Linked DNA regions of Homo sapiens. The protein of the gene in region 1 purifies or fractionates together with the protein of each later gene. This does not show direct contact. Each region holds a gene or a part of one and is shown in the gene's direction. Other genes may lie near its edges.

Region 1 (5,479 bases):
TCTACTCTCCACTTCTATGATATCAACTTTTTTAGATTTGGCTGAAGAGTGAGATCATATGTCTTTCTGTGCTTGGCTTACTTCACTTAATATGATGTTCTCCAGGTTCATCCATGTTTTTGCAAATGACAGAATTTCCTGCTTTTTATGGCTAAATAGTATTCCCTTGTGTAAATATACCTGCATATATACCACATTTTCTTTATCCATTTATTCATTGTTAGACGCGTAGGTTGATGCCATATCTTGGCTATTGTGAATAATGCTGCAATAAACATGGGTATGCTGATATCTCTTTGACATACAGATTTCATTTCCTTTGGAGATATATTCCCAGTAGTGGGATGGCTGGATCATATGGTAGTTCTATTTCTAATTTTTTGAGGAACCTCCATACTGTTTTCCATAATGGCTGTGCCCATTTACATTCTCACCCACAGTGTGTAAGCGTTCCCCTTTTCTTGCCAATACTTGTTAACATTTGTCTTTCCAGTAGCCACCCTAACAGGTATGAGCTAATATCTTATTGCGGGTTTAATTTTCATTTCCCTGATGATTAGTGATGTTGAGTATTTTTTCATAAACTGTTGGCCATTTATATGTCTTCTTTTGGGATGTGCCTGTTCAGGTCCTTTGCCCATCTTTTAATCAGGTTTTTTTTTGCTGTTGAGTTGTTTGACTTCTGCATACATTTTGGATCTTAATCTCTTATCATATATATGGTTGCAAATATTTTCTCTCATTCTACAAGATGTCTCTTCACTTTGTTGATTGTTTCCTTTTCTGTGCAGAAGCTTTTTAGCTTGACATAATTTCATTCGTTCATTTTTGCTTTTGTTACCTGTGCTTTTGAGGTCATATCCCAAAAAAAATCATTGCTCAGATCAGTTTCACAGAGCTTTCCCCCTATGTTTTCTTCTATTTGTTTCATAGTTTAGGATCTTACATTTAAGTCTTTAATCTGTTTAGAGTTGATGTTTGTATAATGGTTTGAGATAAGGGTCTAATTTCATTTTTCTGCATATGGATACCTACTTTTCACAACAGTATTTTTTGAAGAGTCTCTCTTTTCCCCATTGTATGTTCTTGGTACCCTCCTCAAAACTCGGTTGGTTATAAATATATGGATTTATTCTGGGCCTCTCTATTCTGTTTCTTTGGTCTATGTGTCTGTTTTTATGTCAGTACCTTGTTGTTTTGGTTACTATAGCTTTGTAGTATATCTTGAAGTCAGATAGTTTTGATGAGTCCAACTTTGTTCCTTTTGCTCAAGATTGCTTTGGCTATTTGGGTCTTTTGTGGTTCTATACAAATTTTAGCATTTTTGTTTTTTTCCTGTTTCTGTAAGGAATGTAGGACAGAAATTCTTAACCTGAGTTCCTGTGACTCCATTTATGGTCTCAGGGACCAAAAGCTCTTGAAATAAAATATTGAAGTATTATAGAAATTTATAAATGTGGGTTTTAGGGGGAGAAATAGTGTATCATTTCATAAGATTATCAAAAAAATTTATGTGACCCATGAGGTTTGGATCCATTGATCTAGATAGAACATTGGTTCTCAGCTGGGGTGATGTTTAGAAACTTTCGGTTGTCATGCTGTCGGGGAGGGTGCTACTTAGATCTAATGGATAGAGGTCAGGAATGCTGCTAAACATTGTGTTATGCACAGGATAGCTCTCCCCACTCTCCCATCTAAGAATTATCCAGCACAATATGTCAGTAGTGCCTAGGGTGAAAAACTGTAGTCCAGAATCAAAAGATTGTGATATCTGGAATGACATTGTAAATGATCTTGTATAAAATAAGTGTCCTATAATACAGAAATCATTAAGCTAATCATACTAGACTCAAGTGATAGAGTATTACACAGGTAATAAAATGATGTCTATAAGGAATTATGAAAAGAAAAATATTTGATATATCATTAAGCAATATTCATGCTATGAACAATAATACTCAAGAAAATGTTACATGGGGCGGGGCGCGGTGGCTCACACCTGAAATCCCAGCACTTTAGGAGGCTGAGGCAGGCAGATCATTTGAGGTCAGGAGTTTGAGACCAGCCTTGCCAACGTGGTGAAACCTTGTCTCTACTAAAAATATAAAAACTAGCCGGGAGTGGTGGCAGGCGCCTATAATCCCAGCTACTCAGGAGGCTGAGGCAGGAGAATTGTTTGAACCTGGGAGGCTGAGGTTGCAGTGAGCCGAGATCAGGCCACAGCACTCCAGCCTGGGTGACAGAGTGAGACTCCACCCCTGCCCCCCAAAAAGAAATTGTTATGTTTTATATGAATCCCATATACTAAGATAGGGTTTTTGTATAAGAATTCTATAAGAATTCTATCTGAAGGCATTCTATAAGAATTATATCTAAAATAATATTTTAATTGGTTATTTGGTGAAGAAGGGAACCAAGCATGGTGGTGTATATTTCACAAATTTTCTCACATAGTTTGCAAATGCCACTTATCTGCATTGTGTTCATTCAAAGAAGAATCTTGATAATGAGAATATCTAATTATATTGGTGAGATACAGCTAAAGGATATTAGAACTAGCTGATGTTATTTGTTGTAGTCACTTTAACCTCTTTTGTTGAATCTCGTGACAGGCTCAGGTTTTTTTCCTGATAACTCTGTTTTTATTTTTTACTTCAAAAGTAGAAATAGACTATCATTAATGCATACAAGACATTGGTTGGGGACTTGTAGACAATTTTTTCTAGAGATTGCTCCAACATACATAGAAAAACATAGACATCTTAGTGTTGGTCAAGAATTGGAAAATAAAGGAAACAAACTTGTTAAGTAAAAACAACAGTTCATTAGAGTATGCTGATTTCCCACCCCAAGTTCAAAGGGAGATATCTAAATAAAAAGTGTCTTTCATCTAATTTGGAGAAGTTTCCTCATAGGAAAGAAATGTGTATGTACATTTATATATGTCCATATATAGAGATGCATACACACACACACACACATATATATATATAAATATATATATACACACACACATATATATATACACACACGTGTGTGTGTGTGTGAATATAACTATATATATTCCAAGTTAATGCTTGGATGTAGTTACAATTTTTTTTTATATGAAGGCTCGCTCTGTTGCCAGGCTGGAGTGCAGTGGCACGATCTCAGCTTACTGCAACCTCCGCCTCCTGGGTTCAAGCGATTCTCATGCCTCAGCCTCCTGAGTAGCTGGGATTATAGGCATGCACCACCACACCCAGCTAATTTTTGTATTTTTAGTAGAGACGAGGTATCACCATGTTGGCCAGGTTGGTCTCGATCTCCTGACCTCGTGATCTGCCTGCCTCAGCCTCCCAAAGTGCTGGGATTACAAGTGTGAGCCACCGTGCCCGGCCATGAAATGCTCTTAAGCAAAAAGAAGAAAATTGGAGCTACAATACACAGAGGAGAACTCTTAACATGTATATAATTTTCTAAATTTTTTTCTATTAATGTCTGTTAGTCTTTTTATTAGTATTTCTATATACATATATTTTACAAATGTAATCATATTATCTATCCTGTTTTGTAACCTGATTTTTCTGTTAATCATATATCTTGAACGTTTAATATTTACTTTGTATTCTATTAAGTGGATGTTCTGAACTGTATTAACCAACTGGCTTTTGCTGAATTTAGAATGCTGAACACTGTCAGTGCAATTTGGTGCAAACACTGCCAGTGCAAATATGCTTTCCAGTTCTCATGCCTTCCCCCACTGCACCCAATCCTGATTTCACAAAGAGGTTCTGGTTTGGATGATGCAATCCCTTCTCAGCTCTGAAAGGTGGGACTGGGGGAGGAGGATCTGCTAAGGGCAGGATCAGAGGTCCAGACCTAGGCCAAGATAGGTATCCCAAGAATGGAGGACTGGCTGGAAGCCACAACTTCAAGGCAGAAATGCCTGTGCTCGGCATTCATGCTTCTGCCGCAGGTTCCCTGGGATGCAGGCGAGAGCTTGGTTTCATCCCTACTCCACCCGTTCACTGCCAGCTATTTGTGAGAGAGTGTGTGTGGGGGCAAGGGGAGTGATGGGAGAAGGGTGGAAGTGTGCGTGTTAGCAGGAGTAGTTGAGAAATAGGAACGGAGGATAAAATAGTTATTTGCTTTTGAGACACAGCTTTAATTGTGGCCTTTTTGTTGTTGTTGTTTTCCAGGGGAGAAGCCCGAGGAAGATTGACCAGTTTTGTAATTCTAGCAACATGGTCCATGTAAGTTTGTATTTCTCTCTTTTCCTTGAAATATGGTGACTTTCAGGTTAGGTGACTGTTATTATTTAACCTGAAGCTTCGTACCTAGAATTCACGATCTTACACCCCAGTTTGTCCCATTACAGTGAAGGTTGGTGACAAAAAAAAAAAAAGTCACTGCTCTTCCTATTTGTACCTCTGTTTCCTACTGGCTTTGATGTTTTCTTTGAAAAAGTTATTCAGTCTGTGCTCTGTGCTCAGACCTTGGTCAGGAAGAATATTGGAACAGTGGAGGAATCAGTCCCCACAGGGAAACAGGGTCTTATGGGTTTGATAAGTTACAGATGATTGACCACACTTGGGAACACTTTGAAACTTTACAGACTAGAGCTTTCCAGGTAGCTAAGGTAGAATTCCATAGTGAGTAGCCTCAGTCTGCAAGTGTGACAAGGTGATCTGCTTTATGAGGCTTTTAGGAAAATGATAGGTGAGGACAGTGGGCAGTAGCAGGGAGAAGATAATTCAGGGCATGAATGATAGGTGATTACAGATTCTCTGGCTGGACATGGTGGCTCACGCGTGCAATCCCAGCACTTTGGGAGGCCGAGGTGGGTGGTGGATCACTTGAGGTCAGGAGTTTGAGACCAGCCTGGCCAACATGGTGAAACCCCATCTCTTCTAAAAAAAGAAAAAAAAAAATTAGCCTGTTGTGGTGGTGCGCACCTGTAATCCCAGCTGCACAGGAGGCTGAGGCAGGAGAATCGCTTGAACCTGGGAGGTGGAGGTTGCAGTGAGCTGCGATCGTGCCACTGCACTCCAGCCTGGGTAACAGAGTGAAATTCTGTCTCAGAAAAAAAATAAAAAATAAAAAATTCTCAGAATTGGGGAAATCCTTAGAGGCCCTGGCCATCCTCAACGTATAAATAGAAAAAAAATGAATAAATCTAATATGTGAGTTCTATTGACTTTAATGCAGCTTATAAAAATCAGTTGTCATGACAAGAAAAAATACTTTTGCTGTCATCTCATACCATAATGAACTTGAGGATTAAGAACATTCTTTAATTGTATGCCACCTTTTTTTTTTTTTTTTTTTTTCTCTGAGACAGAGTCTTGCTCTGTGGCCCAGGCTGGAGTGCAGTGGCGTGATCACAGTTCACTATAGCCTTGAACTCCTGGGCTCAAGCAATACTCCTACCTCAGCCTCCCGAGTAGCTGGGACTACAGGTACGTGATACCACACACAGTTACTTATTTAATTTTTG
Region 2 (4,489 bases), on another chromosome or scaffold:
GGTGAAGTTACCGTGGTATCAGTGAAACTTAAATCCTTAGGCCACTTCATTTTATGGGGTACTTCCAAGTGCTGTACATGATTTTTTTATTTGTAATTTTTCATTCTTCTAAAAAAGGTTCCCAAAATTTTGTAAGTTTAAGGCCCCACAAAACCTAGATCTGCCCCATCCTCTGAAACCTGTTTCTCTAATATATAAGCTGATGTTTTTAAATAACATGGCTCTGAATTAAATTTTGCTTTTTTTCTAATTGAAGTAATTATAATAATTAGAGATGTGAAAATTATTTTAGTTAGGTTCTTTTCATGAAAAGGAATATAGGCCCATCCAGGGACTCTCATGGAAAATGATGTTTATATAAGGCTATGCAGAACCATTTTCCAAACCGTCCAGGACTTAGGGATAGCTATTCTCTCTCTCTCTCTCTCTTAGAGGATTTGTGGTCTCTCACTCATGGTCTGTTTCTTGTCAGTTTCTTGCATTCTGCTCTCTTTACACCTAAACTTCTTCATAATCTTACCTTGTATATGCACATCAGTGGTTCAACTTCATAATTAATTAAACCAGTTAACCCTTTAATTCCCCATTCTTTGATGAGGAATGTGATTGGCTCAGCTCATATGTTCAAGTCAGACCATTTCAGTCAGATTACTGACTAGCCTAAAATAAAACTTGGATGGGTGCCTATCCTTAATCCAATAGTTGTGCAGAGAGGGAGCAGAAAACAGGGTCATCTGATAAAAACTATGACTAGAGGGGTGGCAGAATCTGTGCAGAGAGTAAACTTCTTAAATGGCGCAGCTCAGCGGGCAAGCCTAGTAATTCTGTTTATTAAAATAGAATGTGTAGGAGGCTGAGGTGGGAGGATGGCTTGAGGCCAGGAGTTTGAGGCTGCAGTGCACTGTGATTGTGCCTGTGAATAGTCACTGTACTTCAGTGTGGGCATCATAGTGAGACCGTCTCATAAAAAACAAAACAATGTGGAAGGTTGTTGTTATTTTGCTCTACTTTGGTTCTAGAAGGATACAGGAAATAAAAGGGAAACCAGAGTGAACACAGAGGTTAAGGTAGGCTCCCAGGGATGAACCTAGGGGAAAGCAGGATTCATTTGTTTATCCTTCTTTCCTTCCTGCCTGCCTGCCCTGACTATGTCTTGATGTTAGTTGTTCTGGGTTGATTTTTCCTAGAGGTTTAGGTGTGGCCTTTCAATATGTAGGTTTTTAAAAAACAAGCTTTTGTTATTTATCTTTGTGTTTACATTTACATGTCTGTGTATTCCTTGTAGTTTTTGTCTGTTTTCTACTGCATGTATAATTGCAGAATTTGGTTTTATTTGGTCTTTAGCTAAAATATTCTTTTACTTCTAACACTTTCCTGAGTTTTGTCATATTGTTTCCGTTTTACTAATTCTGAATTATGCTGTTCCTTCATATCATTTTCTTTTCGTTCATTTTTGAATTTTAGGTTATAGCTTTTTTTCTGGAGTGCTTTTATTGTCAACAGGAATGCTATAGGTCTTTCTCTTTTATCTTATATAATAGGCTTATTTGGAATTCAACTGCAGTTCTGTTGAATCTGCAGGTAACAGTTTTGATTTTTAAGCTTCAGACTCCTTTATTATTTATACCATTTTAGTTTAAATGTGCTTTAATATTTAAGCTTTTTTGGGAGGGGGAGGGGGGATGGAGTCATCTTGCTCTGTCACCCAGGCTGGAGTGCAGTGACACGATCTCGGCTCACTGCATCCTCCGCCTCCCGGGTTCAAGTGATTCGTCTGCCTCAGCCTCCTGAGTAGCTGGGACTACAGGCGCGTGCCACCACGCCCGGCTAATTTTTGTATTTTTAGTAGAGACAGGGTATCACCATATTGGCCCCTCGAACTCCTGATCCCATGATCCGCCCGCCTTGGCCTCCCAAAGTGCTGTGATTACAGGTGTGTGCCACCGCGCCCGGCCAATATTTAAGCTTTTCACATAAAATATAATTTTGGTTATTTTTGTTTTTTCTCAATAATGTATAGAGATTGAATCACTAATGAATAGTCTCAAATCAAGAAATCCACCTTGTTTGCATAAGTAAAAAAGATTCTCATTACCAAAAGCATGTTCTGTGAAGTACTCACAAGATAAAATAAAACAGACTTAGGCAATGATCCTCTTATTGGTATTTTATCAGTATATATAATGTTCTATAAACTTCAGTTCTAATTTGAAGAAACTTTTTTTTTTTAAACTGGACATGATGGCTCATCCCAGTAGTCCCAGCTGTTCAGGAGGTTGGGGTGGGAGGATCGCTTGAGCCCAAGAGTTTGAGGCTGCAGTGAGTTATGATCGAGCCTCTGCACTCTAGCCTGGACAATGGAGCAAGACTCTGTCTCCAAAAATACATAAATAAAATAAATAAAAAATGAATAAATAACAAAGAAACGTATTTCTTTTTCCTAGGCTAGGTTTTCCAAATTTATTAGATAGCTGAATCTCTTTTTCATCATAACACAAAGAGCAAGTATTCCCAGGGAATACAGTTTGGAGATTGCCACTACAGGCAGTGATTCTTACCCATCTCCATTCTGTTGTTGTTGGTTTGTTTTTTAATTTAAATGTCTTATTGCTTGCTACATTTTACTTAATGTCAAGGGTTAATTCATTTGAATATTATTTAATTTAATGGTTTATTACCTTTGTAGTTGAACATTTTGCAGCATTGACATCATATTCTACCTTGAAGTCATGGAACTTTAGCCAAATTTTAATATGCATCATTTTTAAGTATTATTTTTACACTTTGTTTTTCTGAGAATATATATTTAAAACATCTCCTGGTTTTAAGATTTGGTTTTATAAAATTACATGTTCTATAGATGACCTGTATTTTATTTCAAAATATCTCTTCTCTAGATTCTTCTGCACAGTCAGTATCCTCGGGAGTTCGTGCACCATCTCCTGCCCCATCATCAGTACCGTTAGGGTCAGAAAAGCCCAGCAATGTGTCTCAGGACAGGAAAGTTCCAGTCCCTATTGGGACTGAACGTTCTGCACGTATCAGGCAAACTGGAACGTCAGCTCCATCTGTTATTGGGAGCAATTTGTCTACATCAGTAGGACATAGTGGCATCTGGTCCTTTGAAGGGATTGGTGGCAATCAAGGTAGGATATTCTGTCCTGCTCTCTAGAAATTAACTTAATGCATTTAACTATAATGTAAACAGTATTTAACTTTAATAGTCATTTCCTTTTTTTTTTTCTTTTTTTGAGATGGAGTTTCACTTGTTGCTCAGGCTGGAGTGCAATGGGGTGATCTTGGTTCACTGCAACCTCCACCTCCCCGGTTCAAGCGATTCTCCTGCCACAGCCTCCCAAGTAGCTGGGATTACAGGCATGCGCCACCATGCCCAGCTAATTTTTTTTTTTTGAGACGGAGTCTCGCTCTGTAACCCAGGCCGGACTGCAGCGGCACAATCTCTGCTCACTGCAAGCTCCGCCTCCCGGGTTCATGCCATTCTCCTGCCTCATCCTCCCAAGTAGCTGAGACTACAGGCGCCCGCCACCACGCCCGGCTAATTTTTGTATTTTTAGTAGAGACGGGGTTTCACCGTGTTAGCCAGGATGGTCACGATCTCCTGACCTTGTGATCCGCCCGCCTCGGTCTCCCAAAGTGCTGGGATTACAGGCGTGAGCCACTGTGCCCCGCCTGTATTTTTAGTAGAGACAGGGTTTCACCATGTTGATCAGGCTGGTATCAAACTCCTGACTTCAAGTGACTCACCCACCTCAGCCTCCCAAAGTGCTGGCATTACAGGCATGAGCCACCACGCCCAGCCTCGTAGTCATTTCTAAAAGATCTGTATTCCTATTTTTTTTGTTATGTGAATATTTAATCACTTCTTTATGAGCTCTGTCCCCATGTGACCTTTCTCATTACATGTATTTATTACTGCTTTCAGAAAATATCTAATGCAAGCATGTTCTTTTCTTCCTTTCATCATATTAAGGACATAATAATATTTCCTTTCAGTCCCTTTAGGTTGTACTTAGGTTTTTTTCTTTTGTTTTATAACACCAAGTTTTTAGATTATTTCATTAAGCTATTATGTCACTACTTACAAACCATGGAAATATTGCTGTAAATATATAAAAGTAGGTCATTATATTGAAATAATTTACGGTTCAATGTGGAAAATATTAGAAAAACAAAATATTTGATTTTGATTTTAAATATTATCTATTTTTGTTTTGCCTCTTTGTTTGCCCTCAGACAAAGTAGACTGGTGTAACCCTGGGATGGGAAATCCTATGATCCACAGACCGATGTCTGACCCAGGAGTATTTTCACAACATCAAGCAATGGAGCGAGATAGTACAGGAATTGTAACTCCTTCTGGTACATTCCATCAGCATGTTCCTGCAGGCTACATGGACTTTCCTAAAGTTGGGGTAAAGTCCTGATTTTGTACTAGTTATTTAAGGGAGGATTTTCTGAGAAAATGTTT

Evidence for each region.
Region 2: the proteins of ZNF780A (region 1) and ANKRD17 purify together in Homo sapiens (affinity purification with mass spectrometry; one large-scale study listed by BioGRID and IntAct). This does not show direct contact.

The regions. Positions count from the first base shown.
Region 1 is NC_000019.10:40,083,501-40,088,979, reverse strand, and holds part of ZNF780A (zinc finger protein 780A), read left to right. Parts: intron 1-4,181; coding exon of another isoform or gene 4,182-4,226; coding exon 4,227-4,235; intron 4,236-5,479.
Region 2 is NC_000004.12:73,077,299-73,081,787, reverse strand, and holds part of ANKRD17 (ankyrin repeat domain-containing protein 17), read left to right. Parts: intron 1-2,897; coding exon 2,898-3,146; intron 3,147-4,254; coding exon 4,255-4,433; intron 4,434-4,489.